Linked DNA regions of Homo sapiens: all the other regions are reported to be linked to region 1. The links are microRNA targets in miRTarBase. Many come from high-throughput screens and were not tested one by one. Region 1 holds a microRNA gene; each other region holds the end of a gene's coding sequence.

What was found. Region 1 holds the annotated microRNA hsa-miR-1247-3p (CCCCGGGAACGUCGAGACUGGAGC, at 3,859-3,882, shown strand). A microRNA usually pairs through its seed, bases 2 to 8, with sites in the 3' UTR of a target mRNA and lowers its output. Matches are read on the target gene's strand: a 7mer-m8 pairs with bases 2 to 8, a 7mer-A1 pairs with bases 2 to 7 and ends in A, and an 8mer does both.
Region 2: miRTarBase lists SCD5 as a target of hsa-miR-1247-3p. Seed matches in the 3' UTR shown: 7mer-m8 at 5,188-5,194.
Region 3: miRTarBase lists TARS2 as a target of hsa-miR-1247-3p. Seed matches in the 3' UTR shown: 7mer-A1 at 4,184-4,190.
Region 4: miRTarBase lists PARP11 as a target of hsa-miR-1247-3p. Seed matches in the 3' UTR shown: 7mer-m8 at 3,260-3,266.
Region 5: the mRNA of ZNF566 is a reported target of hsa-miR-1247-3p. Seed matches in the 3' UTR shown: 7mer-A1 at 3,454-3,460 and 7mer-m8 at 4,074-4,080.

Annotation. Positions count from the first base shown.
Region 1 is chr14:101,558,065-101,564,207 of GRCh38, reverse strand. MIR1247 (microRNA 1247) reads left to right here and starts at 3,786; the gene lies at 3,786-3,921. It overlaps DIO3 (iodothyronine deiodinase 3), which reads right to left and starts at 2,713. Exons shown (of 1, transcript NM_001362.4): 1 at 756-2,713. The coding sequence starts at 2,711. The coding sequence ends at 1,797. It overlaps DIO3OS (DIO3 opposite strand upstream RNA), which reads left to right and starts at 3,786. Exons shown (of 2, transcript NR_152588.1): 1 at 3,786-3,956.
Region 2 is chr4:82,625,541-82,631,683 of GRCh38, forward strand. It overlaps SCD5 (stearoyl-CoA desaturase 5), which reads right to left. Exons shown (of 5, transcript NM_001037582.3): 5 at 3,999-5,977. The coding sequence ends at 5,787. Among named protein-coding and RNA genes, the nearest start is that of LINC00575, 7.2 kb to the left of the region's middle.
Region 3 is chr1:150,505,538-150,511,680 of GRCh38, reverse strand. TARS2 (threonyl-tRNA synthetase 2, mitochondrial) reads right to left here. Exons shown (of 18, transcript NM_025150.5): 17 at 5,976-6,090; 18 at 4,079-4,765. The coding sequence ends at 4,617. ECM1 (extracellular matrix protein 1) reads right to left here and starts at 3,572. Exons shown (of 10, transcript NM_004425.4): 1 at 3,402-3,572; 2 at 2,100-2,150; 3 at 1,919-2,020; 4 at 1,679-1,759; 5 at 1,499-1,579; 6 at 483-805; 7 at 1-224. The coding sequence starts at 3,471. RefSeq lists an enhancer at 317-1,187.
Region 4 is chr12:3,807,635-3,813,777 of GRCh38, reverse strand. It overlaps PARP11 (poly(ADP-ribose) polymerase family member 11), which reads left to right. Exons shown (of 8, transcript NM_020367.6): 8 at 1,339-4,917. The coding sequence ends at 1,655. Among named protein-coding and RNA genes, the nearest start is that of CRACR2A, 58 kb to the right of the region's middle.
Region 5 is chr19:36,443,678-36,449,820 of GRCh38, reverse strand. ZNF566 (zinc finger protein 566) reads left to right here. Exons shown (of 5, transcript NM_001145344.1): 5 at 1-4,702. The coding sequence ends at 844. Among named protein-coding and RNA genes, the nearest start is that of ZFP82, 28 kb to the right of the region's middle. RefSeq lists an enhancer at 1-770.

The sequences.
Region 1 (6,143 bases):
CTCTCCCTGGTCTCTCTCTCTTCATCCCAGCGGCCTCCCACCTCTGCTTCCCAGCACGGAGCGGGTGGTGGGGTTTGACTGGAGCTTGGGGAAGCGGAGGAGGGACAGGAGGAGGGGGGTCCTGGGCAGGGGGCGCACCCAGCAGCACGCTGGCCCGGCAGTAGGAGCCGCAGCTGGAGTGAGGGCGCCCCTCTGCCAAGGCGCGCCTCCAGCGGACCTCAGCTGCCTGGAGCGGGTGGGCAAGAGGCAAGGTTGCAGGTGCCGGAAGGGGGCCAGGGAGGAGTCAGGTGCGCAGTGGTGCCTGCAGCGGTCGGGAGCCAGGCTGTACCGGGTCCAAAGCCCCTCTCGCCCTCCACCTCACCCAACCCCCTCCACACACCGCCGGATACTCAGTTAAGTTGGATCGGCGGCTGCAGGGGCAGCTGCATCTGTTCGGTCTGTGTGTGCGCGCGCGGGAGCAAGAGAGGGCCCCCTTGCCTCTCCCGCCGCTTTCCAGGATCCCGCGGCGCTCCGCTACCTCGCTCTTCTCCCGCAGCTAAGTTCCCCGTCCAGGTGGGTGCGTGCGGTTGTAGGAGCGCCCCGGGCACCGCCGCAGACCCTCTTCCTCCTCCATCCTCCTCCAGCGCCCCTGCCAGCCTAGGCTCCTTCCCGTCCCGCTTCCCAAGGTCACTATGGGGACGCGAGGGAGGGATTTGTGTTTAATTCCTGCCGCTATTCAGAGGGAAAAGAAAATAAAGGGACCAAAGGCAACCAGAAAGCAGTTTACCTCAAGCCTTTATTATTGTAGATTGAAAGAAGTTTATATACAGGAAATATTTCCAGCAAAACACTCACCAAATGGCCTTCGAATCAGGGGCCCTCCACCTCCCAGCCCCACAATCAGCAGCTCTGCCTAGGACTCCCCTCACTTGGGGACCTCAGGCTCTCCCCCCACCTCTCTTTCCCCGGACTCCATCACCCCAACGTCATTCCCCAGGAGTCTCAGCTTTTTCTCTCTCCCTGGGGCGCTGCGAACCTCGCCAATGCCTCTCAAGCTATCTTCCTCTGGTCCCAAAGCAGACACCCCAACTTCCCTCCCATTTAAGGTGGTTACCTCACGGAAACCCAGAGCACCCTCCCCCTCAAGGTTTAGGTGCTGCTTTGAGGCCCCTGCAATTCAGAACTAGCTCGTGGTCAAGACCAGTTAGAGATAGTTCGTCATCAGCAGTGGGGCTCCTGTGCACCCAAAACAAGCGGGGGAAACTACCCTGCCCACCCCTCCCCATCCACGACATCACTTCCCCTACCAGGGACAGGAAACAGACACAAAAGCAACAGGGAACCCCCTCTCCGCGCGCGACAGGTGGGTGCCAGGCAACTAGCTCAGCTGAGCTGAGAGTCTCCTGGAACCCAGCTGCGCTCAGGGCGCGCGGGCGTGGCCAAGGTCTCTGTGCAGCTGCGGGAAGCACCGGGCCAAAGCACTTGGCTGAGGGCACGCTGGGGAGGGGGTGTAAGAAAATGCTGTAGAGGCAAAGTCCTGGGGGCACACGGACAAGGGCAAGCCATATCCCGCGCTCAAAAGAGGATTTCCAGTGAGCCAGGCAGGTGTGAATGAGACAGTTACAGAAGCAGAGTCCCAGGGAGGTAGGGGAGATTGTTCATGTGGCTGAGGGTGCAGACTCAGTCTGAAATGGTGGCTCAGCACATCAGTGTCACTGGGGCCTCGCCAAGCGTGACTTGGTTTGAGGCGCTTGCACGTGGGCTTCGAAGGCTCGAAGGCCCAGCCCACCAAGTTCAGTCAATTGTCCGTTGGATGTTTACACCCTCCGGGGCCGAGCGCCGTGCAGTTGCTCATCATAGCGTTCCAACCAAGTGCGCAGCTCAGAGACCTGGTAGCCGTCGGGGCCACGGCCGCCCTGGTACATAATAGTGCCACTCTGGATGACATAGAGACGCTCGAAGTAGGCGCCATAGGCCGAGCTGCTGGAGTTGGCCATGGTGTCGAGGACCAGAGCGCAGCCGGGTGCACCTTGCTGCAGTACCCTCGCTGCGCTGACCCGGTCCTCCAGGCTCCGGTGCTGTGGGATGATGTAGGGAGAGTCCGTGGTGACCCAGCCGTCGGAGGGGTGCGCTTCCTCGATGTAGATGATGAGGAAGTCGACGTCGCGCTGGTACTTAGTGACCAGGCGCTGGAAGGCGCTCATGCGCGCCATGAACGGTGGTCAGGTGCAGCTGCCGAAATTGAGAACCAGCGGGCGGTTCCCTTGCGCGTAGTCGAGGATGTGCTGGCTCTGGAAGCCGTCGGGCAGAACCACCTCGGAGTTGGGCGCCGGACCGCCCTCGTGCGCCTGCTTGAAGAAATCCAACTTCTGGCCATGCCACACCGCCTTGAGCGACGCCAGGGTGCACAGGCGGTTGTCGTCGGACACGCAGATGGGCGGGTCATCGGGAGGCACCTCCTCGCCTTCACTGTTGAGCTCCACTTCGGGCTCGGGCTGCCCCCGGCGGCGGCGGCCCAGGAAATGCTTGCGGATACACAAGAAATCGAGAAGCCAGAGCATGAAGGCCGTGCCGAGGAAGCGCGGGAAGAGCACGAGGCACGAGGCGGTCTGGGCGCAGAGCCTCAAGGAGTGAAGCAGCAGGGAGCGGAGCATGGTGGCTGCAGGCCCCGAAGCCCCCTGGGACCCCTCGCCCTCTCCGACCACCAACCGCGACGTGGCCTGGCGAGGCATCTGGGCTTCAGCAGTGCAGGGAGTTCAATTTATAGCGGAGGCTTCAATTGGCGGGAGACTCCACCTCCGGCCCGGCCCGCCCCCTTGCAACTTGAGCCCGGAGGGATCACCCAGCAGCGCGGCCAATGCCCTAGAAATCTTGGGCTGAGGGCGGGCGCAGGCGGGCGGAGGGCGGAGCGGCCGGGCCTGGGGCCGGTGGGGGCGGGCCCGGGCCCCGCAGCCAGCTCTCGGGGGCGGGGGACTCCGGCAGCCGCTGCCGCTGGGGACCGGGAGCCCGACCAGGGACCTGGGCGTCCGCTGGGGAGGTCCTCCAGCTGGCGCGAGCGCTGCGCGCCGCCCTGGTCCCCGCCGCCTGGCTCCGGCCCGCGCCCCCCTCGCCGCGCACCTGAGCCGAGCTCCCCGGCGGCCGCCGAGCCGCGCCGGAGCTCCGGTTCGCTTCCCGCGCGCCGCCGCCAACGCCGCCCACGCCGCTGCCGCTCGTGCGGGGCCGCTGCCCAGGTGCCGCGGGAGGCCGGGTCCGCGGCCGCCGCTTCGGTGGCCCCGGCTCCCGCCCCACCGAGGACGCGGGCCAGCGAGGAGGCAACTTTGCGTTCCCGCCGCCTTCCTGGCTCGCCCGCGGGCGCCGCTCGCCTGCCGGAGCCCGCCCGCCCGCCTCCCGCGCGCGCTCACACTCGCGCCTCGCACACGGCCGCCCCCCGCACCGCCCCGCCACGCACACCGCGCTCCGCGCCCCCCGCCGCTGCCCGAGGCTGCCGCGCGCCGCCCCAGCCCGCGCCGCCCTGGCCGCGCCCGCCCCGTCCCATCTCGTTCCAGCGGGGCGCCGCGGTTCCTGGGTCAGCGGCCGCCGGGGCCGGGCTGAGAGGTGCGGAGGGCAGAGCCCGCGGGCGGGTTACCGCCGGGCGCCGGAGACCGGAGAGCTGGGGAAAGCGGCGCCGGCCCTGCGCCCCCAGCCGACCCGGGCGCGGGGCGCCACGGGCGTGGGGCGCGGGGCAGCGGGCGCGGGGCGGCGCCGGCCCCGGGCGGCTCTCCCACTAGGGGTAGCTGTTGCCTGAACGCCGGAGCGCTCCCCTCTCGCCGCTTGCCTCGCCCAGCGCAGCCCCGGCCGCTGGGCGCACCCGTCCCGTTCGTCCCCGGACGTTGCTCTCTACCCCGGGAACGTCGAGACTGGAGCGCCCGAACTGAGCCACCTTCGCGGACCCCGAGAGCGGCGGCGCGACTCACCGCGGAGGCGCCCGGACGCGTCAAGTGCGTACTTTCAACCGTAAATGGGTGCTGAGCGTTTAGGGGTGCGGGGCAACTCCCTAACTCGTGGGGCCCTGGCCGGCCCTGCCGCGGCGTCCGAGACCTTCTGATCCCTCGCTGCGCGCGGCGCGGGGTTGGCGACTTGGGCTCAGGGGCGGCGGGGCGGGGAGGTGCCTTGACCTAGGGACCCAGAGGCCGGGAGCAAGTCTCCTTTCGCCTTGGACTGCAGTGTCCCCCAGGGCAAGGCCTGAACCAGGTCGCGAGGGTCTGTCTCCCGTCTGGGGAGCTGAACTGCCCGAGACACTGTCGCAGTCGCGGGGACTTGTCTGGAGCGGCGGGGTCTGAGCCCAAGTCGGAAGCCGCCGCCGCCGCCAGCGTCCCGTGCGCCTGCCGCCCCGGGACCAGCCGCGAAACTTCTTCTCGGGACGGAGACAGCGCTCGCCGCCCGGGCCGAGGTAGGAGCTGGCTGGGCTCGGTAGAGCGCGGGCGAATCGCTTTCGGCAGCGAAGGAACGTGTCGGGAGAAGCCAACTGCAGGACCAGGGCCCCAGCGGGCGCGCAGAGACGCCTGCCTTGGGCGGAGGTCCCCCCCTCCGGTTTTCGTGGCTCTGGTAGGGCCCTCTGTCCCGTGAGCTCCTCACTGGACCTGAGGCTACAGGCTTCAGCAGGTCAAGCGCCCGAGTGTGCCTGGAGGATTGGCGGCGGGGTGGCATGAGAAGGTGGCCCCTCTTCTCCATCTCCCAGTCAGGCGATTTCTCTGCTGTCTGGGGCAGGGGCGCACACCCCAGGAACTTACTACGTAGAGGGAAGCCAGCCTGGTCTCTCCCCCTTGCGTCAGTGCTCCTAAGCTGCCCCTCACCACTCTGGGTAGGGGTCTTTCAGGTGGGCTAGGGAATTCTCCTTGGAAGTCCCCTTGTTTGCTCCCCTCCATCAGGGCACCTCTGAGTTAGCCAATCATCCTCTTTTCTGGCCTCTTTTTTGCGGGGAGGAGAGTAGAGAGAGAAGCCTCCTACTCGGCAGGTCTCTGAGAGGAGGTTTGGGGGGGCTTCTGAGGTTGCTCCTCCTGGGCAGAGTCAAGGGGTGTTGAGGGTTCCAACTTTTACTGGACAATCTCTCAAGCTCTGATTCCCTGATTTCTGGGAGGTGTCAGTGTAGGGCTTGTGTCCTGCCCCACCCACACAGCATTTGGTGCAGGCACATGGGATGGTTCCCCAAGCCCTTTTCCCACAGTTAGTTTCAGAAAATGCATAAGCCACCTAAGGCTGGGAGAGCCTTTCTGTGCTGGCTGAGATCTGGTGGCATGTGCATGCATATGTGTGCAAGTGTGTGTGTGTGTGTGCAAGTGTGTGTGCGCATGTGCATGTGTGTGGAAAGTATGGTCTGGGTGGCTGTAAGACTGGCCCCTCTTGTCCCCTCTGCAGGCCCAGCCCAATAGGAAGCACCTGATCCACACTCTTTCTAGCCCCAGGGATGCTCAGGAAAGCAGCCTTTCTTTAGGGCTGTCATCTGTTCTGGGGATCTGTTGCTGTTTCTTGGGCCCACAGAATACACTCCACACCTCGGGACTCCATAATATTGGACAAGGCTGGAAGGCCCATTTGGCTCCTGCAGCCTCTTATGCAGGTGAGGACAGACCCAAGGTCCAGGCAATGCTGGCCTTTGGAACACAGAACCTGGCTCACTGACTCCCACTCCAGTTGTCTTTTCCCTCTGCCTCTGGAGCAACCCTCTCTCCTCCAGAGCAACCCCTGTCCCTCCTTCCTACCTCTCTCTAGGGCTGCACCCCCAGCTCACCTTAGACCTGGCCCTTCCTACCTGTTGCCCCTACTGTCTTGTCCCATCCCAGTGGTCAGGAGGGAGAGTACTGGCCAAAGGCCCAGCTCCACCTGTGACTTAGGGGAGTGCCAGGCATCACCCAGAGGTCCCGGCCCTCGGGGGCCTGGCAGGCTCTGCTGTGGGGGAAGCAGAGTTAGAACTGGGGCTGCTTCTCCTGTCCCCCAGCCTGGCTGGGCCTCCCCCACCTCCCTTTCTGCCTGCCCTCTTACAACTCCAGCAGGGGGCGGGCAGGGGAAAGAAAAGGAGGGACAAGTTGGATGGGGTCCATTTGGTGTCCAGGAACAACTTGGAGAGAGGCGGGGAGGGGACAGGCAGCAGGGCCCTGGCAGAGCCAGGGGAGGGCTGGCCTTTGGAT
Region 2 (6,143 bases), not on the chromosome of region 1:
AGGGAGCTCCCCCGACCCCACGCAGCAGCTTGGCCACACAGCTCAGAATAAGAACGCACCCTTACACACAGCTCCTGTGTTTTGCGATACATGTGCTGTGAGCACAGGCTTATGTGAAATCTGGTCATAAAACTACAAACACACCCTTGCTGTGGTGGGCCCAGTCATTTTGTCCACCCACAGCACAGGGGTTGCCAGCTCTGTCTCACAGTTGGTACCTCTAGAAGAAAGCAACTTCTGAGACTTCTGGCCGGGCATGGTGGTTCACACCTGTAATCCCAACATTTTGGGAGGCCAAGGCGGGCGGATCACCTGAGGTCAGGAGTTTTGAGACCAGCCTGGCCAACGTGGTGAAGCCCCATCTCTACCCCCAACAACAACAACAGAAATCCGGGCATCGTGGCATGCACCTGTAGTCCCAGCTACTGGGGAGGCTGAGGTGGGAGGATTGCTTGAACCCAGGAGGTGGAGGTTGCAGTGAGGGGAGGTTGCAATGAGCTGAGATTGCGCCACTGCACTCCAGCCTGGGTGACAGAGTGAGACCTTGTAAGAAAGAAAAAGAGAGAGAGAGAGGAAAGAAAGAAAGAAAGAAAGAAAGAGAAAGCAAGCAAGCAAGCAACTTCTGAGATTCAATGGTAACATTGAGAGTTGCCTCATAGAGGATTGAGAACAAGTGGGGAGGAGGGCAGCTATTAGTAGATCCCTAGTTGTGAGGGATTCAGATGGCTGGTTGAAGGTAATGCCATCTTTTTTCCATAGTAAACCTAGGCCAGCAGCTGTAAGGAAGGGTACTCTTTTGCAGGGCAAAGTCTTCACAGCCCCAGCTAGCCCAGGCTGCTGTTAGCTGATATTTTCCTTTTGGATCCTGTGAAGCAGTTACAGGCAGGATGTGGCTGACTGTTCTTCCAGATGGGGAGTCGTGGCACCACGGGGTCGGGGGGTGAATGGAGAGGGAAAGAAGGCTGTGTCGGAGCCCACAGAAGCTGCTGGGACAGCCGGGCTTGTTGCCCTGAGACAGGCCTTCCCTCCTCCTGCTTCTGATGTTGCAAATGTAGAAGTCAGGAACATCCTTGGGGTGGGATGGGGGCTTCGGACTCTACAGTCCACAGGGAAGTAGCAGAGGGAACAAGGAAAGGAGTTTCCAGTTCATTTATAGCACATCCTTGACGTAGAGGAAGGGGAAGGAGTTTGATTAACACCCTAAGCTAAAAATGGGAATTTTTTTTTTTGAGACAGAGTCTCACTCTGTTGCCCAGGCTGGAGTGCAGTGGTGCAATCCGGCTCACTGCAAGCTCCGCCTTCTGGGTTCAAGCAATTCTCCTGCCTCAGCCTCCAGAGTAGCTGGGACTACAGGCATCTGCCACCATGCCCGGCTAGTTTTTTGTATTTTTAGTAGAGATGGGGTTTCACTGTTACCCAGGATGGTCTCGATCTCCTGACCTCGTGATCTGCCCGCCTCGGCCTCCCAAAGTGCTGGGATTACAGATGTGAGCCACCACACCTGGCCAAAAATGGGAAAATTTTTTAAGAAAGGATTATAAAGGTTAGGAGATTTCTTTCAGCCACTGAGAACACAACTGGTTTTCAGTCCCCTTTGTAATTGGGGACAGGAGTGAAATGGACAAATGAACCTCACAGATAATCCCCAATGCTTACTCTCATCCATGAGTTTCAACCTCTCCCCTCCACAAATCTATTCCAGGTCCTGATGAGCTGACTGAAGCATAGGGACATTGCAGGCCAGACCTGTCCTTTGACACAGGTGCGAGGCACAGTAAGGAGGCCAGGGGTGCAGAGGGCCACGCGGAGGCCTGGAACTGATGGAGGCACACGGTTGCAAAGACTCCCCAGAACGGCAGAGCTGGACAGGTTAACCCAATCCAGTTGGTCCTTTATGGAAAGTGAAACCAAAGTTCCCAGAGGTTAGAGCCATCTGGTTAGTTAGCAAAACCAGGCCCAGAAGCTGGCTCACTTCTGGTCTATGGCTCTCTGCACCATATCCCAGTCTCTGGCTTGTGTGTGGGGCATGCTACTCACCCTCAACTGATGTCTCCCAGGGCTCTGCAATGCCCCAGGCACTGGGATGAGGCTTCCAGATTCATCTAATACACATAAATGTTGCTCTTCCTGTCGTGTAGACAAGGACACTGAGGCTCAGAGAGGCTCCGCAGGCTAGTAAATGACAATTTCATATGTCATATTTCAGCCTTAACCTGAGTCCCAGGTAACACAGCCAGTCAGATCAAGAGTTAGAGTTCAAATCCAGGTCTCAGGACTCCAAGTCCAGTGCTATTTCTACTACCCCATTAAGCTGTAGAGCTTTCTGTAATAATTTCTCTCATTAAATTGTTTTTCATGATGGGTTATATTTAATTGCTTTATTGCATTTTAGGAATGCACAAAATATATGCAGATTTTTTAAAACCAAGAACATTCTATCCTTCCAGCCTCAGTCTGTGTTCTCCCATTCAGATTCACTTACTCCCTCCCACTCCCAATTTTTGACCTTCTATGTCCAGAAAGGATGAGTGCTAACTTGAGAGGTGTTTCGAATTTGAAGTCAGGCATATGAGAACACGCCCGACTCATCTCTGTTGCTGTGGTCGAATGTTAGGGCTGAAGGGGACCTTAGAGAAGAGTCCTCTCTTTTCAGAGAAGGAAACTGAATCCAGAAAGGCTGACGTTTCTCAAGGCCACAGAGCTGGCCAGTAGCAGAGTTGGGGACTCGAGGTGAACTTGAGTTGGCTCCACTGTCCCAGGCTGGCTCCATGACTCTGCCATGACGCCTGTGGGACACATGCTATTGGAATTGCTTTCCCTGGGCTCCCTTCACCTAGATGCAGGGGTGGGTGCTTCTGAAATAAGCCTTGTGAGGATGAGGAGATTAAAGACTGGACATGGGGGGACCATTTTTTTATCTTAAACTGAAACTTTCAAACAATGTATCAGTCTAAGGCCACCTTGGATAGGTTTGGGAAATAACTCCCAGAGCTACTTTCTGTTAAGATGCTGCTGAGACCTGAAAGGAATGTTAACAGGGAAGACACTAGTGCAATCTAACCTTTGTCCAACTCTTCCTCCAAATCATTCCAATCCGAGGTCATTCATGGCTCTGCTGCAGAAAAAAAGATGGCACTCAGGTTCAGAGGAAGGAGATTCTAGATTTATTTGGTCTAGCTGGGAAATACCCTCCTTTTGTAAAAAGATTCCAAATAGCTGTTCCAAATGTCATCTTTTTGACTAATGGACAAGTAAGTAAGTTTAGTACTTTTAGGAGTCAAAGGTTCACATATACATTCCCAATTAAGGGCCATTTCACATCATGCTGATACAAACTTATCTTGGAATGTGACTACCCTCCACCTGCGCTCTATACAAGGTCTTAGCAATGTGTGACTGGGATATGAAGCAGCTGAAAAATGCTACGGTCACATCCAAAGGGTCCTTACATGATGTGATCTAGCCTGGTACCCATCAATGGCTAGAATCCCACTCAACTGCAGACACGTTAAGAAGCTTCTACCTGACAGTACAGCCACAGCTGCTTTGGGGCAAAAGATGGGTGGAGACTTTGGTGGTGCAGAGGTGAGGTTGAGAGAGGCAGGACTAGAGTGAAAACAGGAGTCCATCTCCCCCACCTCTGGTAACTATTGGTGGGGCCTGGAGAGGGGAAGGTGTCCTTCATGCTCCTTTGGGTGACATATAGGAGTAGATTCCCAATTATCATCTATAAGCACTCCCAGTGGCTGCTGGTGAGTGAGAATCAGGGAACAATACCACTGGGAGTTCTACATTCCAAATAAAACTTGCTGGCTTCCTCTGGCTGTTGCCTAAGGCCGATAGGATAGGACAGGCCTGGTCTCAGGGGCTGGTCTCAGGGGCTGTTGTTAGCCCAGAGCCCAAATCCCAATGTGAGTCATACAATCATCATGAGGCACCAAGCACTCTGGAAAGAACATTCTCTAAACAGCACTGAAGTATCTGGACAAGAACACCAATGAATTCATAATCATTTATTGTAAATCACTCACAGTTTACACATTACCAGTGGCAAAATAACACTGTTAAACACCTACTGGATGAAGAACTTCATTGTGACTATTTCCAATTGCCATCATATCTTTTTCTAAAATTTAAAATTTAACTTTTAAATCCTACATCTTTTCTGAAAATATCTATCTTCAAAGTGCTCCAATACTAACACTATAAGCCCTTTCTTTTGCTCTAACATCTAACACAAAGGGCACACTGTCCCATTAATTCCACATGCACTTTACAAAGCAACTTCACACACAAATTTTTTTAATCCAGAAGCTACATAATGATCACTTTATATTTTGCTACAAAATTAATGAAGGCTGCATGCAGGTGAAACATTAGTAGACACGGAATTCTAGATAACTGTTGGTTCTCAAGATCTGATGGTCTGATGTGGAAAATTAATATGCTTATTTAGCAGAAGTAGCTAAAGTACATGCATCAGTGGCTGGGATCAATTAGAATATAAATTAGGTGCTTAAACATTTAAACGAGAGCTTAATTTGAGCTTAATTTGATGTCTGGCATGTCAGAGTTATACACCTTTAAGATAACAATAGCAAACAGAACAAAATCAAACATCTAAACAGGCATGATTTATAAGGTGGGCTGGCCATAGGGCTCAGGACACAAAACGAGCTGGGCAGTGAACAAATCTCTCTTGAAACAAAGACAGTAGAGCATTAACAAGCTGTAAACACAGCAAAAAAATAAACAAGAGCCATTTCCTGTATTCTCATTTTTTTCAGTTTTTGATTCTCTTAAGCAAACAATAAAACCACACACACACAATAATTAACAAAACAGAAACATTCTTTAGTTACCACATAGATCCCCCTTCTGTCTTCTACCCTGCCTCTCTGCTCCTTCAGATGGTTGTTTAAAAGCAATGATGGGTTAATTGGTAGAAAAGAAAACAAATGCTCTCCTGAACTACACTGAAAGAATATTACTTTCCTTCATCCTGTCAGGGTTAGCATCATGTTCAAGCACATGACAACGTATATTTGACGTATTTTAGCTATAGCGATTAAATCACATGTCCACACTCTAATGTTAAATCGTAGTAATATTGACTTGAAAAGTTTTTTAGGCTGGGCGCGCTGGCTCCCAGCTACTCGGGAGGCTGAGGCAGGAGAATGGCGTGAACCCGGGAGGCGGAGCTTGCAGTGAGCTGAGATCTCGCCACTGCACTCCAGCCTGGGGGACAGAGCGAGCCTCCGTCTCAAAAAAAAAAAAGTTTTTTTCGGCAGGGTGCGGTGGCTCACGCCTGTAATCCCAGCTCTTTGGGAGGCCGAGGCGGGTGGATTGCCTGAGGTCAGGAATTCGAGGCCAGTCTGGCCAACATGATGAAACCCTGTCTCTACTAAAAATACAAAAAAATTAGCTGGGTGTGGTGGCAGGCTCCTGTAATCTCAGCTACTCAGGAGGCTGAGGCAGGAGAATTGCTTGAACCAGGTAGGTGGAGGCTGCAGTGAGCCGAGACTGCGCCACTGCACTCCAGCCTGGGTGACAGAGTGAGACTCTGTCTCAAAAACAAAACAAACAAAAAAAAAAACGAAAGTTTTTTCATTGATAATTGTATTTCAACATTATTTTGAGATAAACAAAAACATTCCCAAACCACATTGACTCGTTCCTTCCCCACCCTCTGCCCCCTCCCACGATCCAATGTACAAGAGAGCTATTGTAACCAAAGCCATGAACCGAGGTTGCAACGGCAGACATGTGGGATGGCTGTTCCAAGTTCAAGCACTGCTGTCTCCAGTCCTGGCCTTCCGGGCCTCGATCATCGGCTTGGTTGCCCGTTTGCGGTCAGTGGCCAGCCCCAGCCAGCACATGAAATCAATGAACCAGGTGGTTGGGTTAAAATTTAAGCCAAATTCACTCGCAGAGTAGTCAAAGGGAAAGGTGTGATGGTAATTATGGAAGCCTTCACCTGGAAGACAAAGCGGGCATTGATATAATTCAATCACCACCTCTCTGCATAGATGTTTTGAATCACCTATTTTTTCAGGGTTTACCATGTGCAGGACATGGTGTCAGCCTCTGTGAGGAGCAAAAGACTTGGTTACTGACTCCAAAGGCATTGACTTAGTTAGCTA
Region 3 (6,143 bases), not on the chromosome of region 1:
TTCTTGATATTGTCCAATGTGGGCACCCCAGGAGGGAAAGGCAGCTCAAGACCCGAGGAAATATCAGGCTGATGGCTGGGGCAGGCCCGGAGCTGGTAGTGTGGCTGGGGAGCTTCCTCCTGGAAGCAGGAGAACCGAGCCTCCCCCTGCCGCGTGCAGCACCAGTGGGGTCGGGTCTTGACCGAGAACTCGGCCTCACAGAATCGGCTCATTGCTTCCTCCCACTAGAGCAAGAGGGGAGGATCAGCCCACTTTCCACATTCCTGCCTTCCTCCCAGGCTCCAGGAAAGGACACTGGGCAGGCAGATAAAGAAGAGACAGTGGTTGTCCTCTGCTCCCCTGGCACATTGGGGAGGCCCAGGGTAGGGCCAGTGAACGGGACCTGAGGTTCCTCCAGACCCAGGCCTAGTGCTCTAACCCTTAAAACACACATACTGTCTGGGGTTAAAGGACACCCCCCGGCATCAAGAACCCAACCTTACCACAAGTTTGGCACACTCTAGGCGGTTTGTGTGGCTGCGGCAGTGGCAGCAGCGGGAATATCCAATCTCCAGGAAATTGAGGGTCTCACCCTGGCGAGTGAGGTGGGAGTAGCTGGACTGTGGTAGGTTCCAGGGACCATATACCACATGCTGACGGTTAGGAAGGCAGATTTGGTTCAGATTGTCTGGAGAAGGCCGCCCAGGGGGGAAGCCATCCAGCCGGTGGCCCCAGCCCCCTTGGGACCGGTCCTGTTGGCAGTGCTGGGCTGCATTCCAGGACTCAGGTTCTGGATGGCTCTGGTCCCCAAATGGAGCTGGCGTTCCTGGAATGGGGAAAACAGTGGGAAGCGGGGACATGTGAAGGAACCCACAAAGGCTGGATGAGCTGGGAGGATTGAAAGAATCTGGGGTGGAGGAGAAAGGGTTGGGAGGATATAGTGGAAATGAGAAAGAACAATTTGTGGCTCTTCCTTTTAAAATAACTGAAAGGAAAAGAGAAGCGAGGTGTGAAAGGTGTCAGCTCACAGCCTGCCCCCACCTCCTCCTGCTTCTCAAGGCTCGGGCTTCCTGCTCCTCTCCCCAGGGTCCTGAGCACTAAGGCAGGAGGATGGACAGACCAAAGCTGTCACTCACCCTCTCTCGGCATGGAATGGATGATTATCTCCTCCTGATATGGAAGAGGTGGGTCTACTGGGTAGAAGGAGTAAGCAAAAGCCATGTTGGGATGGCCATCTCTAGCAGAGAAAGCCTGGCTAGTTTACATGCACAAAGAAGAACTCAGCAGAGAAGCAAGTGAAAATAGATGCTATTTTTGCACATCTAATCACATAACTTTCTAAAACAGGTATATCCTCAATTTTACAGATGAAGAAACAAAGGCTTGGAGAAGTATGTAACTTACCCAAGGTTATACAACTGGTGAGTGGCAGAGCCCACCGTCTTGTCTGCCCCGAAGCCCATGCTCTGGGGGAAGGCCATGAGGTAAAGGTGGGTAAAGAAGAGAGGGAGCTGCTTACCTTCCTTCTGTTCATTGGGGTGCTGGAGAGAGGGCAGCTCTTTTTGGAGGGGGACAGCTTCCTGAGGGAGAGGGGGACCCACTGCAAGATAGGGGTGAGGGCACCAAGGAGCAGGGATCAGCCTGGTGTCAACAGGATCCATAGTGGGATAGAGGTGAGGGAGGGTGGGCAAGCGCTCACCTTCCTTTTCAGCAGGGAGTTGGGCAGGTAGCAGCTTTTCCTGTTGGAGAGGGGTGGCCTCCTGAGAGGGAGGGGGCTGCACTATAGAAGGGGGAATGTGTGAGCAGCCCACCCTTTCTCCTAGCCAGGGCTGGGAGTGGGGGCGAGGGCCTCTTCCCTCCTTTCCACCTGAAAAGTGGGATATAGGCCAGATTAGAAACCTGGAGGGTCACTGAGGAGGGCATGGGATGGTGACCTTACCTTGACTCTGTCCCTCAAAGGGAGGGCCATGCTGAGAGGAGTCAGGGTGATCCATGGGGAGGCTTCGGGATAGGGGTGGGGAGGGGGGAGCTGCGTAGCCAACTAGAAGCAAGAGGGGAGACATCAGAGCCCACAGTGCCTCCTGGAGTCCCAATCCCATGCTGCTCCCCCAAACTCTTACCTTCTTGAAAGTGCTCTGGCCTCAGCTGCCTCTGTCCTGTAGCCGTGAAGCCTGGAGGGAAGAAGGGCAAGTCAGGGGCCACTGGGAGGGCCTTCCCTGGACTTCAGCAAGGGATGGGGAGGCTGTGGAGATCAAGAGTGTAGGACAGACAAGCAAGACACGAGATGCCCCTCTGTATTCACCTGCCCCGTGTCCCCTAATCCTCTCCCAGCCCCAACACACCTAGACATGACCAGCTGGGTTCTGAGAAAGCCTGTGGCGGTCTGATAGCTCCACCTCTACTGGCTCAGAGGTTGGGCCTAAAGGGAGTATGGCATACGGGATTGGGGAGGGAGGCCCTCATTTCCTCTGCCAGTCTTTCCCTCAGGGCTGTGGGTTGTCCTCCCCAGTCTCTGCTGGGATGCGTCTCTAGCTTTCAGAGGAAAAAGTCTGGACCTTGAGCTGGTTGGAGCCTACCCAATCCACCTCCTCCACCCACCCTCCTACTCCAGGCCCTTGAAACATCTTTAGGCCTTTGGTTAAGGAGGCTTCCTGAAGGTTGAGTGCTTCCCCTTCAGCCAGTCTCAGCTCCGCCTTAGTTTAGGTCTCAATTTAGGGCCTGGGGGACTGGGACAGGCACAGGGAAGGGTCACTTGTAGGTGATCTGCAGACACAAAAGACCAGGAGCTGGGAAGAATGATGGCATGGGGCTTCACAGAGAAGTGGACAGATTTGCTGACATCCTCAGCAGCTTCCTGCAGGAGTGCCCTGGGTGGTTTTTTTCCTTTTCTTTTCCTTTTTTTCTTAGTTTCCACCCATAGCATTGAGGGGTTCCTGTTTTGTTCAGGCATCAAAGCAGATAAAGAATGTGTTTGTGCTGGATGGAGGGTGGGTCTGTGGATGGACACCCCTCAACTCCTCTAATCAGACAGGGAGTCAGTCGAGGCTTGCTGGGCCAGCAATCCGGTTTTGAGCAGCCTGGGGGCCCCTTTTCCCTCCCTTGCCTCTCCCACCAGCCACCTCCCTACATCCTCATCAGCAGGAGACCCTCACTCTGTGAACCCACCCCCCACTCAGTTGTCTATTTGACTGGGATTCTGTGTTTCTTGGCAGCAGTTTCTAGGAACCCCTCTCCTTCTGTGCCCCTGCTCTCTGCCTCCTTGGTTAAAGGCTCCACTGGCCTAGGCCCACTTTGGGCCTGCTCAGAAAAGGAAAGCCAAACGGAGAATCACTCTGCTAGTGATGAGCCGTCTGGGATGCCTGGACCCAGACCCCTGCCATGCAAGCCCAGACCCCCTCCTAAGTGCTGATCCCCCAACTCACCTCCCTCAGAGGCAGCAGAAGCAACAGCCAAATAGGTCAAGACCAAGGCTGCTCTGGCTGTGGTCCCCATCCTGGGGCAACTGACCACTGGACACTCAGAGGTGGGTCCTCTCAGGCAAGTCTGGATGTGAAGGGCCGGCCACTGAAGCTTGTCTGGTGGCTGTTACGGTTGTGAGCTTCAGGACCAGCTCTTCTTTTATAATTGTCTGGTGTGATCTCCCGCCCTCCTCAGCTTCCTGCCATGACTCAGTCCCAGCTGCTCCTCCTCTGGAAGCCACTCCTCCCAAAGTCACCCTGAAGCCTCCTCAGAGGATTGAGAAGAATGGGACTGATTAGAGGAGAACATTCTTATGACCTTCAAGAGAAACTGATTCAGAGAATCCAGGAGCAAGAGGTGTTTGAGCCCCTAGTTTGTGCCTCAGTTTCTCCATCTACAGGCTGCCTTCTGTGGAGAGGGGATCTGCCAACTCATGAACTGGGGTTGGGGAAACAGGGCACAAAGGAGTTTACAGCGGGGAGCAGGAAACCTATCCAAGGGATCTCCCCTACCAGTGTGAGGTCTGGACTGTCCCTTTTCAATTTCCCTAACTCTCTGGGACAAAAAAGAGGGAGACAAAGTGGAACATCCTTTTATCCCACCTCTCCAGAGTCAGAGATGAAGACATATGACCAGCAGCTTCCAGTTTGTATTTATTTATTTATTTATTTATTTAGAGACAGAGTCTCGCTCTGTCGCCTAGGGGGGTGCAGTGGCGCAATCTCAGCTCACTGCAACCTCTACCTCCCGGGTTCAAGCGATTCTCCTGCCTCAGCCTCCTGAGTAGCTGGGATTACAGGCGTGTGCCACCATGCCCGGCTAATTTTTTGTATTTTTAGTAGAGACAGGGTTTCACCGTGTTAGCCAGGGTGGTCTTGATCTCCTGACCTCATGATCCGTCCGCCTCAGCCTCCCAGAGTGCTGGGATTACAGGCATGAGCCACTGCGCCTGGCCCAATTTATTTTTTTTTGTAGTTTCATTCTCCTCACATCCAAACAGCTACAGCTTCCCTCCTTTTGTGGGGTCCCCAAACCAAGTCTCTTTTCAGGAGAGCAGACATGTGCCTCCACACAGTTCTGAAGTTCTGGGGGCTCCACATTGTCAGCTGGGTTGGGGTCTCCCATGTGAGGGAGGCTGATGGCACTCGCAGGTTTTTGCCTCATCTATGTACAAAGGCTCAGAAAATTTCTTCGGCATTTGGGACCCTCGTGTTCTGTAGCTCCACCAGTCGCTGCACAGCCTCAGGCAAGTCCCACTCCCCAAGGCGACGATTATCTCGAGTCCGAATGTTCACTGTTCTCTTACTTTGCTCTTTCTGGCCAACCACTGCAGGTAGAGGAAGTTTGGGAACCTCAGGGCAAATTCACCCACATGGAACAGTTTCTTTTGCTCTGCAGAAACTTGAGAGACCTAAATCTTTAGGAAGGGTGGGAGCAGAGCCCAGATATGGTTCACAGAAAGGAAGTATTCAGCTGTGTCTGCTAATACTAAATGACCAGTCCTGCTCATCCTGAGGAGACAAGGAAGTGCTTCAGTCCCCGCAGGCCTTATCGCTTCTGGTCAAGAGCCCCAGGGTCAGAGACATAAGAGTCAAGCAGAGAAAGACAAACACTGAGAACCCCACAGAGAGAAACTGTGTGTGTGTGTGTGTGTGTGTGTGTGTGTGTCAGAGACATTAGAGTCAAGCAGAGAAAGACAAACAATGAGAACCCCACAGAGAGAAACTGTGTGTGTGTGTGTGTGTGTGTGTGTGTGCGCGCGCGTGTCTGAAGGGGGTATTAGAGCAAGTGGAAGGTGGCAGGAGTGGTGTGGCCTTCACACTGCCCCGCCTCCCCCCAACCACTCTGACCCTTAGAACAGTTTCCTCTCATCAGTCCCACTCTGGCTCTTGGTGTCTGTTAGGGCTGGATTCACAGAGTGAGGGGCCTCTGCTGAGGAGGATGTATGCAGGGGCTGACTGGGCGGTAAGGGAGGGAAAGGGGCCATGTACAAGTCCCTGGGATTGCAGCACAGCTTGCTCTGGGTGCTTGTAGGGAGAGTGGGGTGTGCAAAACTCAAGAATCAGGTAATCTGGCTGAGGAGTTTCTGCTCCTCACCTTTGAGATAGAGCCCTGAACCCTGGAAAATGAAAAAGGGAGCATGGCAGTGCCAGAATTTTCTCCCTAAGGCCTTTCTCCTCATCCCTTAGGGCTGATTCCATCTAGGTCTAAAATAAACAAGGGTAATTAACGCTGTATTAACCCTCCCGTCCCTTTCTCTCTGATGCTCCCTTGGTTAATTAACCTAACAGACACCAACAGCTAGAGTGGAGTTAAAAAGAGGAAAACTATTTTGAGTGTCAGAAGTGGTTATGGGGAGGGCAGGGCAATGTGAAGGAACACAGGGCCCAAATGAGTCAGGTGTCCTGAATCCTGGCTCCTACCTGCTCAGGTAATGAGCCCCAATTAACCCAAATATGCATTACCAGACTTGGTAAACTTAACAGCAAGAATGCAGACGGCAGGTGGGAGAACATTGGCTCTGAGGTTCAGCTTACCAAACTGAAAATTGTAGTGGGCAAGCTGGGCCCGGCGGATTCTCCGGCTGAGGGTCAGTCCAGAGTCTGCATCCAGGTCACTGACCAGTCCTGCAGCCCGCAGGCTCTGCTGTGCCTGCAACAGAGGTTTGGTGACAGGAAGTTAATTTACTGGAAAGTTAAGGAGCT
Region 4 (6,143 bases), not on the chromosome of region 1:
AATCCAAGTTTTTCAATTTATGTCTGGTACTCAGGCAAATTAAGGAGAGAGGTGAGGGGAAAAGGTATGGGATGTACATTTAATTTTCTGGTCCTTACTTTGTACCTTGCTTCCAGCAAGAGAACTGACTACTGTTTAGGATCAGGATATGCTGCATTTTGAAAATGTAAATTAATTTAAAAAATAACTACTAAAAAGGCCATTCCACTTATTTAACTGTAAGGAGGTCAGAAGGTGTTACATAAATCCCATCAGTGTTAGGTAAATATGAGACTTTGCAATTCATTTCCACATTTTTTTAGAGTAAGAATGCCCTTAATGATGTCTATCTCTTGTGTCTACCATTTCAGAAGAGTTGGCTGCTTTATCGAGTTTTCATGTGTAGGCAGTGAGCCAGTAAAATCATTTTTGTTTTGGAATGCTCAGATATGAATAGCATTATACTCTCTCAGAAATCTTTTCATGGATATGGGATTCTATTGTTTCCAGAAATATTACTGAATTGTTATCCCATATCATAGAAATACGGTTTCTTGGGGTTTAAAAGAATCCCTGTAGGCCATCGGTTTCCACTGTGCTCTCTAGAGCTTTGCTGGATGTTGACAAGGGAACAGGGTGAGGAAGTGGTGAAAGGAAATAGAAACGGGAGGGAGGGCCAAGCAGTAAAACTCAGGGCCGGGCATGGTGGCTCACGCCTGTAATCCCAGCAGTTTGGGAGGTCGAGGCAGGTGGATCACCTGAGGTCAAGAGTTCAAGATCAGCCTGGCCAACATGGTGAAACCCTGTCTCTACTAAAAAAATATAAAAATTAGTTGGGTGTGGTGGCACGCGCCTGTAATCCCAGCTACTCAGGAGGCTGAGGGAGGAGAATCGCTTGAACCTGGGAGGCGGAGGTTGCAGTGAGCTGAGATCGCGCCACTGCACTCCAGCTTGGGAGACAGAGCAAGACTCTGTCTCAAAAAAACAGAACAAAACAAAACTCAGGTCCAACCACACTTTTAATCATTAAACCAGTTTTATCTGTTTTATTAATTGTTTTCTTTGTAAGATTTATTTTAAAAACAGAAGTCTGATAGCTATATTTTGGTGGGGGCAGGGGATGGTGTTGGTGGTGAGGACTGGTCTGTACCAACAAATCTATTCCTATGGCAGTCTATACTACAGCTGTCCATAACAGATGGATTTCTATTCTTCTCTTAAAGATCTGCAGATGAGGAAATTCCACATCTATTTTTATTATACAATTCTATGCATCTATTCTCCTGACAAAATGTTTTTGCTTGTTTTTAATATATTCTTCGGAGTAATCTTGGCTTTTCTTGGTCCTCTTTGTTTAAGGAACCTATTTTGCTAGAGATGCTGCTTATTCCAGTCGTTTCTGCAAAGATGACATAAAGCATGGGAACACATTCCAAATTCATGGTGTCAGCTTGCAACAGCGGCATCTGTTTAGAACATATAAATCTATGTTTCTTGCTCGAGTGCTAATTGGAGATTACATAAACGGAGACTCCAAATACATGCGACCTCCTTCCAAAGACGGGAGCTATGTGAATTTATATGACAGCTGTGTGGATGATACCTGGAACCCAAAGATCTTTGTGGTTTTTGATGCCAACCAAATCTATCCTGAGTACTTGATAGACTTTCATTGATTTCACTTCCAAATCTCGGTGGTCAAGGAAGCTTTATTCTTTTTTGCAGGAAGGTTTGCTCTTCAGTCATCTAGCCACTAAATGTTAATTATCTGATACTTTTGAAACAGATATGAAAAAAAGTGGCCTCCATATAAAAAGACATACTGACTTCAAGGTTGGTTTTTGTTGTTTTGTTTTTGCCTGTTTCTTGTAGTCTTGTTTGTTAAAAGTTGATATCATTGATGTTTTAACACATAGGGGTGAAAGATACCATTCAAAATGGAATCAGCTGAGTCTCAACTAATGTGGTCATTGAGATCTTTAAAGTTTACGTGTGTGTTATCAGGATAAATGATTTTAGTTTAAATAGACTTATTCGTATAAATGTTGAAAAAAAATACAGACATAAATGTGTCCCTTTAGAGGAATTGATCCTTTGTAAATTGAATTCAGGTAGTAGTATCATCCACCAATCCATCTGTTGCTTTGTTGGTCTTCTGAAGGGGGGATTTAAAACTCTGAAACAGTCTGAGCACCTTGAGAGAAATCAGAAACAAGACAATTATTTGCAGTGCTGTCAAACAAGCCAGAAGGAGAAAATCAAGGTAGAATGCCCCACTTTCCAGTTGCCTTAGGATAGCAGGCTGCAGCCTCAGACTTGATCCTGTCATTCTCCTCTGTCTCCCACATCTGAATTGATAATTGCTGCAAAATGTCATTAGCCTACACTTCATCCATCAGGGCTCTTGGATTCTTACACCACGACTTGCTGTGCAAGGTGTTTATTGCATCTTCAAAGTGAAACTTTAAATTATTATTCAAACATTTATTTTCCTTTTGTTTTAAAAAGAGTCCCTACAATGATCACTTCTAAGATTTTTTTTTACCTTCCCCTCTGCAGCACACACAGCTATTCAACAATGATTTCTAAAATTCATATTTCAAATTTGTATCTCTCCATTTTGAAACATTATAGAAAGCATGGGATGCTTGAGACAAATCTGGTTTCTCCTTTGAAGTAGCTGTTGACAACCTACTCTCTTGAAAAGTTAGATATAATTCTTAATCATGTTTAGTGGAAATTTGTTTACCTGTTCCATCTGTTTTGCTGTTTCATTGTAAGGAAGATGAGAAGTGTTGGAACAGCTTCCCTCCCCTAAAGGTATTCTAGCAGAGGCGAGACAGCAACTTGGCGGGCATGTTGCATAGGAGTTAAGTACCAGATGGGGAATTGCCCATGTGATGGTGAAGAGTCTCTCACATTGATTTTCTTCCTTTTCTCCTCTTCTCTCCTCCTTCTCTTCTCTCCTCTTTCTCTTCTCTTCTTTCTCTTCTCTTCTGTCTTCCTCTTCCTCTTCTCTTCCTCTCCTCTTCCTCTTTCTCTCTCTTCCTTTTTCTCTTCCTCTTTCTCTTTCTCTTTCTCTTCTCTTCTCTCTCTCTTCCTTCCTTCTTTCTTTCCTTCCTTCCTTCCTTCCTTCCTTCCTTCCTTCCTTCTTTCCCTCCCTCCCTCCCTCCCTCCTCCCTTTTTCTTTTTCTTTCTTTTTTTTTGGTTTGGCAGAGTCTTGCTCTGTTGCCCAGGCTGCAGTGCAGTGGTGTGATCTCGGCTCACTGCAACCTCCACCTCCCGGGTTCAAGCAATTCTCTTGCCTCAGCTTCTCCAGTTACTGGGACTACAGGTGCATACCACCATGCCCGGCTAATTTTTGTATTTTTAGTAGAGGCGGGGTTTTGTCATGTTGGCCAGGCTGATCTCAAACTCCTGACCTCAGGTGATCCGCCTGCCTCAGCCTTCCAAAGTGCTGAGATTACAGGCATGAGCCGCTGTACCCGGCCTGATTTTCTATGATTCTGCCTTTAAAAGACAGCACGTATACCAAGCCTTTTTCAGAAAGCTTTTCTCTTAACTCCTTCTAATGCTGAATTTTCTCTCTATTATCCTCACCCAATTTTGGCTGAGAGTTAGTGTACACAATTTAACTTCTTAGAAAAATTCCAGTGTCTATGCTTATATTGCTCACTTGAATCATTTGAATTAGAAAGGGATCTACAAATAATAAAAGCAAAGAGTGCAGACAGATTAGGGATAGTAATTCTTAAAGTGCCATCTATCCCAGATTTCCGTTATAGACCAGCATATGTGTAATTGTGCAGTGGGAGGTAAGTAGTACCCAGGACATTGCATGTACAATACTTTGAAACAAAGTGGCAACAAAGATTTCCTGGCTCAGGTATGCACCCCAGCTGCTGGTTTAGATGAAGTGCTGAGAATATTTAGAAAAAGCGCTTTAAAAAGCATCTAGAGATTATCATGAAAATAATTGGAGACAAAGTCACTAGGCTGCTTTGTGAGAGGCAGCATACCATGGCTCTAAACCCGTTCACAAAAAACAATGTTAGAGACATTAGGAATTCAGGTTTTGAAAATCTTTTTTTCGATTTATTTGTAATTTACATACCAAAAAACCACATTAAAATAGTCCTCCCTTCAACATGGCTATCTTTTTTCAAGTTTTATATGCATAGCTCTCTCAGCACTTGAATGGAAAAACTGTTACAGCATTTGGGAGTTGTTTTTCTTTTAGACTTTGCAGATCTTATCTCAAGGTGACTAGGAACCCAGAGCTAAGTATCTGTGAGGCAATCTCTGCGAACGCTGAACTTACCTAGTTGGTTTCTATGAAATATGTAGAATGCACTGCAGTAGCCATTGTAAGAAGGTACTATACCGGTTTTTTGGGGCTTGTTGTTGTTGTTTGGTCTGAGAATGTACTGCCAACCCCTCTTTTATAAGAGAGAACTGATTTTGATACATATTTTAAAATATGATAGTACAGAGTTAATGGATGTTAAAATTTTATTTCTTTGTTTTGGTAAGTAGATTAAATCGAGAATCATATAATCAGTACATTTGAGAATTATATAACCAGTATATAATAATACTGGACACAACCATTTGCCATCTTTTCCTGTTATCATCCCATAGAGTGGGTGGGGAGAATGAATAGACATAAACCTAGAATAATGATAAATGGTTTTTAAAACTCTATATTGAATACATTCCAGCTGATAATGACTTTTCTTTTTCACCTTGGTGATATCAGCCTCAGGGTAAAAAAAAAAGTTTCATAAATCTTTTAGTTATAAACAGGAAAGTTTTATATTAGTGTGTCATTTCATTTCTAGACTGTTGATGGTGATGATGATAAAGAATTTGGAGCCAATTTTGATATATGAATGTATTGCTTTTACATGTGATGATTAAAGCTCTCCATTAGCAGTTCTTGGTTGTCTGTGTATATCATATATTTGTTTCTGTGACTTATGTATCTCATCTCCACCTTGTATTATTTAAACCTAAGTTTTCAGCTCAATCTTAGTGGACCCAAGGAGTTTGTTGCCTGTAACTCATATGTACCCCACTTGCGGATGGGGGAAGTCTCTTGTTCTTAGTTTGAATCATCATGAGCAATAGCTAATCAAATAACCTATGGGAAAAATCATTTACTGTGTGCTATTATAAAAAAAAATCCCCAAACAGGCCAAGAGTTGGCATCTGCAGCATTTTTTATTCTTGGTGTGCTCCCCTGGCTCAGCGGAACAGCTCTGTAGGGTGTGTCTGCCTTCATCCAAGGAGTATCCTTCCTACAGCCCATCTAACCTCCAGCCACTCGCACTGTGTCTACCATCATTCCTGTTGAACTGAGTTAAACATTCCGTTCAACCTTTGGCAAGAAAGGATGGTATCAAAGGCTCTCCTCAGGTTAGAACTGAGAGAAATGAGGGGCAGAATGATTGACTCATTGTGATAAAAATTCAATTGAGCTTTGATTGTTGATCTAGAAGAGCCACATCCTTCCAAATTCTGTTCCCTAGCCATTCGAGTGTTTGTGATTACCTCCCAAATTGCTAGGAATAACACGAGAAACAATCTTATGGTGATCCTAGTTGTGTCGCCTCCAGATTTTCCACTCTCCTTAAGGATTATTTGTTTATTTTAAAATATTTTCTTTTGCTTAAAACAACGAGACAGTCAATTTCTAGATGAAATTATACACTCTGTACTTGTAAAAGAGATAAAAGGTAATGAAAAATAGCACGGAAAGGAAAAAAAAGACCCTTGTCAAAAATTAGTGTTGATTAGAAACTTTAACAAAGTGATTTTAGTTATTTTTATCCCTTTGCACTCTATGCAGGAAGAGTTTTGGTGATACGAGATAGTCTGCCACACTTTCTTATGAATCATTTCATAATGTTACTTGGGGCAACACAGATGGAAGAAATGAACATTTCAAAGAACTATGAAATACATAATTATTTGCGGGCTGCCTGATTAGTGTGAGTAATATATGCCGGGAGAGGTGAGCCCTGAATATCCAGGAGAGAAGTTGAAAGTTCATGTTTTAACCTTGACTTTTTAGCAGTGGTAGTTTACTTCTCATGTCTTCAGAAACTCTAGGATGGAAGGTGGTTTGGGGACTTACATCTCTCTCTTTCCTCCTGTCTCCT
Region 5 (6,143 bases), not on the chromosome of region 1:
TTTCAATCAATTGGTATTCACTCATGAAGATCTGCCCACTTTGAGTCACCATCCATCCTTCACATTACAGCAAATCATTAACAGTAAAAAGAAATTCTGTGCATCTAAAGAATATAGGAAAACCTTTAGACATGGCTCACAGTTTGCTACACATGAGATAATTCATACCATTGAGAAGCCTTATGAATGTAAGGAATGTGGAAAGTCCTTTAGACATCCCTCAAGACTCACTCATCATCAGAAAATTCATACTGGCAAGAAACCCTTTGAATGTAAGGAATGTGGAAAAACCTTTATTTGTGGCTCAGACCTTACTCGACATCACAGAATTCACACTGGTGAGAAACCCTATGAATGTAAGGAATGTGGGAAAGCCTTTAGTAGTGGTTCAAACTTCACTCGACATCAGAGAATTCACACAGGTGAGAAGCCTTATGAATGCAAAGAATGCGGGAAGGCCTTTAGTAGTGGCTCAAACTTTACTCAACATCAGAGAATTCATACTGGGGAAAAACCCTATGAATGTAAGGAATGTGGCAATGCCTTTAGTCAGAGCTCACAACTTATTAAACATCAAAGAATCCATACAGGTGAGAAACCTTACGAATGTAAGGAATGTGAAAAGGCTTTTCGTTCTGGCTCAGACCTTACTAGACATCAGAGAATTCATACTGGGGAGAAACCCTATGAATGTAAGATATGTGGGAAGGCTTATTCTCAGAGTTCACAGCTTATTAGTCATCATAGAATTCATACTAGTGAGAAACCCTATGAATATAGGGAATGTGGAAAGAACTTTAATTATGACCCACAACTTATTCAGCATCAAAATTTGTACTGGTGATGAAACAGAATATATGAAATGTGTAGGGAGGCTTTTAATTATGGCTCAAAACAGAATTTATCTTGTTAATAATTCCTCTAGATAGAATAATGTAGAAACATTTTATTTGTGGACTACAGCTTATTCAGCCTGGGAAAAATAATGTTGGAGAAATACTCTATGAATAGAATATACTTTGGAAGCCCTTAACTAAACGCTTACTTCTCTTGACATCAGATAATTCAGTCTAGCAATATGATAGATAATTCAGTCTGTCATACTGAAAATGACAGCACTTTTAACACCTTTCTAACCTTCTTAACGTCAGAGAATTTTTGTAGAAATGTAGTCCTGTGATTGTCATTTTTTCCCCTAATTTCTCTAATTGTTACATTCTTAGTATTTTAATCCATATTAAATTTATATGGCTATAAATTTCATCTGTTTACATCCTGATTTGTATACTATTTTAAAAATACCTTTAGTACCTGGGAGAAGTGACCTCTTTATTTTTGAAGATGGCTTATTCTTTTTGTTCTTTATAACATTAAGGCTTTCTTATTGTAAAAATGTTCATGAACGACATTTTACTCAATAGAGATTCTTCATTATCTTCATGGTGTTTTGTTGTGTTACTGTAATATCACTTATGAAATCCTATTGGTGGATATCGTAGTCTCCTCTAGATATTTTGCCATAATACATGCCAAAATACAAGTCCCTGCTGGACATTCTCCCTAAGCACATCTTTGTATCATATCTTTTAATTGCAGAAGTAATGTGTGAATATATTTTCCTTATAAAAGATGCAAACATTACAAAAAGGCAAATGTACCCTTTGACCATATCCCAAAGGATAGTCTTTATCAGTTCATTATTTATTGCTGATCATTTTTCTGTTCATATATACATGCGTGTCTCAGTAAAAATTATAAAATGGGGGATAATTATAATACCTACCTCATAATGCTTTGTGAGGATTAAATGAATTAAGATCGATAAAGTGCTTAGAATTGTGCCTGACATGATAAATACATACTCACTGAATGTTAGTCATCGTTATTATATTCATCATCATCAGTATTATTATTTGTAGAAAGGCTTTTTAACTTCTGCAGAACTTAGTCACCATTAGGCAGGGTGTTTGACTGAAGAAAGACCCTTTGAAGGTAACAAGTTAAGAAAATTTCCCATCATCATGTACTTACTATTGAACATGAAATAATCCTAGGTGTTGGGGGGGAAAGTACTGTGAATAATGTGTGTGAAGGACTTTATTCCGACTAATACTCTTTTTGTCGCATTATATACCCAGTAAAAAAGAAAAGAGAACATAAGCAAAATATTGGTGCACTAATGAGGAAAAAAAGTATGAAAAGAGAAACAGCATCATATTTAAAAAATGGACAGAGATAGAAACATAGTTACAGATTTAAAAGGTTCTGTTGAATATTATGCTTTTTTCTAATATGTTTGAAAATTTAAACAAAATGGTTTTTAAGGAAAATATACATCAATATTGACTCCAAGAAAATTAGGACTCTTCAAAGACTCTCATAAACACAGAGAACAGGGAAAAATTAGCATGTGATCAGTTAACTATTACTAATGAAGCACCAAATCCAGTTTCTTTCTAAGGAAAACTTTATCAAATGTTCAAGGAACTATTTCAGTTATATAGAAGTACACATCTTGGCTCACGCCTGTAATCCCAGCACTTTGGGAGGCTGAGATGGAAGGATCATTTGAGGCCAGGAGCTTGAGACCAGCCTGGCCAACATGTTGAAACCCCATTTTTACTCAAAAATACAAAACTTAGCCAGGCATGGTGGCACATGCCTGTAATCCCAGCTACTGGGGAGGCTGAGGCAGGAGAATCACTTGAATGCAGGAGGTGGAGGTTGCAGTGAGCCAAGATCACGCCATGGCACTTCAGCCTGAGCGACAGAATGAGACTATTAAAAAAAAAAAAAAAAAGTCCACAGTGTAGCTTTGTTTGGGGTTAAGTTAGTGTTTTGAAATGGGCCTTCCCTGTGCTCAAAACATGCTCAGCAAGCAGCTCCCCACGCTGGACAGATCGCATATGTGGAAGGATGAAGTTTATGTCTGTAGAACTGTTATTTTATGCCCCACTTCCTTTTTTCTTAGATCCTGTGTAGACGGGTCTCTCTGAACATTGTGTTACTTTACTTTACTGGCATAAGGAAGTAAAATATTTCATAATAAATTTGAGAAAAGTAGAGTGAGCAAAAATACCTGCAAATGAGAGAATTACTAAAAATGGACTGTTGTAATGTTTTGCGTTATCAAAATGAAAACTGCCAAATGAGATTTTGTTTACTTTCTTTTCTTGTGTGCTTATGTCTTTTATAAAGTTCTTCATCTAAAATTATAGAGATAGTGCATTTGCACCCAAATTAATGAAACAATACCATTAAAGAGAAAGAAAAGGGGCTGGGCACAGTGGCTTACGCCTGTAATCCCAGTGCTTTGGGAGGCCAAGGCAGGGGGCAGCCTGGCCAATATAGTGAAACCCCATCTCTACTAAAAATACAAAAATTAGCTGGGCGTGGTGGCATGTGCCTGTAGTCCCAGCTGCTCGGAAGGCTGAGGCAGGAGAATCGCTTGAACCCGGGAGGCGGAGGTTGCAGTGAGCTGAGATCCTGACTGCACTCCAGCCTGCATGACAGAGTCTCAAAAAATCTGTCTCAAAAAAAAAAAAAAAAAAGAAAGAAAAAATGATTATCTTTGCCCTTCTCCGTTCCTCATTCCCTCCCCTCTGTCAATTTTCTTCTGAATAATATTTAAAGGTTGTGTATATTACCCATATATTTCTTCATGCTAAAACATTAACACACAATTATTTTATTATGTTTTTACAGAAAAATGGATAACTATACATTTCCCTGAAATTTGCTTTTTTACATTCAACTGTACATTTTGGATTTTCCTTCAATAGATGATGATCTAACAGTCTTTCTGATGGTTACAGTATGTTCCACAGTGTTATTTACCAATGCCTTTTCAACCACTTTCCCAATTGTGATATTATGGATTGTTTGCGCTTTTTTGCCATCTAAAAGTAATGCTGCAACAAACACTTTGTATTCTTGTCTGTTTTATTTCTATAAAATAAGCTTCCCAAGTCATTTCCAGTGTTTTTGCTTTGTTTTGTTTTGAGACAGAGTTTCACTCTTGTTTCCCAGGCTGGAGTGCAATGGCGCAATCTTGGCTTACTGCAATCTCCGCCTCCCGGGTTCAAGAGATTCTCCTGCCTCAGCCTCCCAAGTAGCTGGGGTTACAGGTATATGCCACTACGCCTGGAAAATTTTGTATTTTTAGTAGAGACGGCATTTTTCCATGTTGGTCAGGCTGGTCTCGAACTCCTGACCTCAGGTGATCCACCCTCCTCGGCCTCCCAAAGTGCTGGCATTATAGGCATGAGCCACCGCACCCGGCGTCATTTCCAGTGTTTTCTATGTTTCCTAGGAAGGTTTTGCTTCTGGAAGATTTCAGAGGGCAAGAGAATAAAGGAGTGGAGTGCAGTTTTTCATATATGTGATTCTGTGAGTGTGTATACACAGAGATTTAATATTTTAATACATCAGGAATTGATTATACGATCTAATGCAGGATGTCAGACTTGTTTCTATCCAGGAATAAAACCAGTTATGCCAGAAGTAACTATTATTCACCTTTCTCCTACTGAATTAAAATACTATCAGTTGTATATTAAATGCTCACATCTATTTCTGTTCTCCATATTCTAGCAATCCTTGACACTTTTCAATAGCTTTTATTACTTGGAAATAAAGATGTATGTATATATTATTAATATATAGTTTATTATTTGGAAATAAAGATGTTTCTTCATGAGAATTTTTGACTCATTTATTTTCCAATGAAAACCCCATTAGGATTATATTTTGAATTTCATTCAGTTTAAATGCAGAGTATCCTACATGAATAAACAATTGACACTGAATGGAATTCATTAACACATCTTGAGGTTTCTTTTATAACTCTTCATCCTCTTGACTCTCTAATATCTAATAATAACACCATCTACTGTGATGTCTCACAATACTTAAAATATGCTAGTAATACCTGAAAATTTATTAGAGTTCTGCTTATAAGGTGATAGATTCTTTTGGGCTCTATAGTTATATAATCTGCAGATAAAGGTGACATACCTATCTCACAATATTTTTTATATCTATTTTATTTTATTTTATTTGAGACGGAGTCTCCCTCTGTCGCCAGGCCGGAGTGCCGTGGCGCGATCTTGGCTCACTGCAACCTCTGCCTCCTGGGTTCAAGTGATTCTCCTGCCTCAGCCTCCTGAGTAGCTGGGACTACAGGTGCACACCACCACGCCCAGCTAATTTTTGTATTTTTAGTAGAGACAGGGTTTCACCATGTTGGCCAGGATGGTCTCGATCTCTTGAACTTGTGATCCGCCCGCCTTGGCCTCCCAAAGTGCTGGGATTATAGGCATGAGCCACTGCGCCTGGGCCATCTTATTTTCTTATTGCATATGCAGACCACAGACCTGGTGAGAGTGGGTATTGGGCAGCACTTTTTTTTTTTAACCATATTTTACTCATTTTTTACAGAACAGCCAGTTTTTGAGATTTTGTTTTCTTCTTCCTATTTTTAGCCCTACTCTTGTTTGTGTGTTATAAGAGAAATGACTTATTGCCTTGGTGAAATGTGTTAAAACTGTGTATATTACCTCCCTTCATTGGACCCTTAATTTCTCCATGGTCTCTAGTACAGGCTATGATTTTCTATTCCTACTTTATAGAAAATAGATTTTCTATTCCTATTTCCATCCCATTTTCATTCAACTGAAAATGTGATGGGCAATATCTATACTTTATATCTGTGAGGATTCTGTGTAGACATTCTGTCATCTTACTTTTAAGTGTAAACTACAGAAATAAACCACAGGTTCAATGCAATCCCTATAAAAATACCAATGACATTATTCACAGAAATAGAAAAAATAGCCCTAAAATAGCCACAAAAGACCCAGAATATCCAAAGCCATCCTAAGCAAAAAGAACAAAACTGGAGAAATCACATTACCTGACTTCAAATTATACTGCTGAGCTATAGTAACCAAAACTGCATGGTACTGGCATAAAAACAGACACATCAACCGATGGAACAGAATAGAGAACCTGGAAATACATCCGTACATCTACAGTGAACTCATTTTCAACAAAGGTGCCAAGAACATACATTGGGGAAACGATAGTCTCTTCAGTAGATGGTGCTGGGAGAACAATATCCACATGCAGACTGAAACTAAACC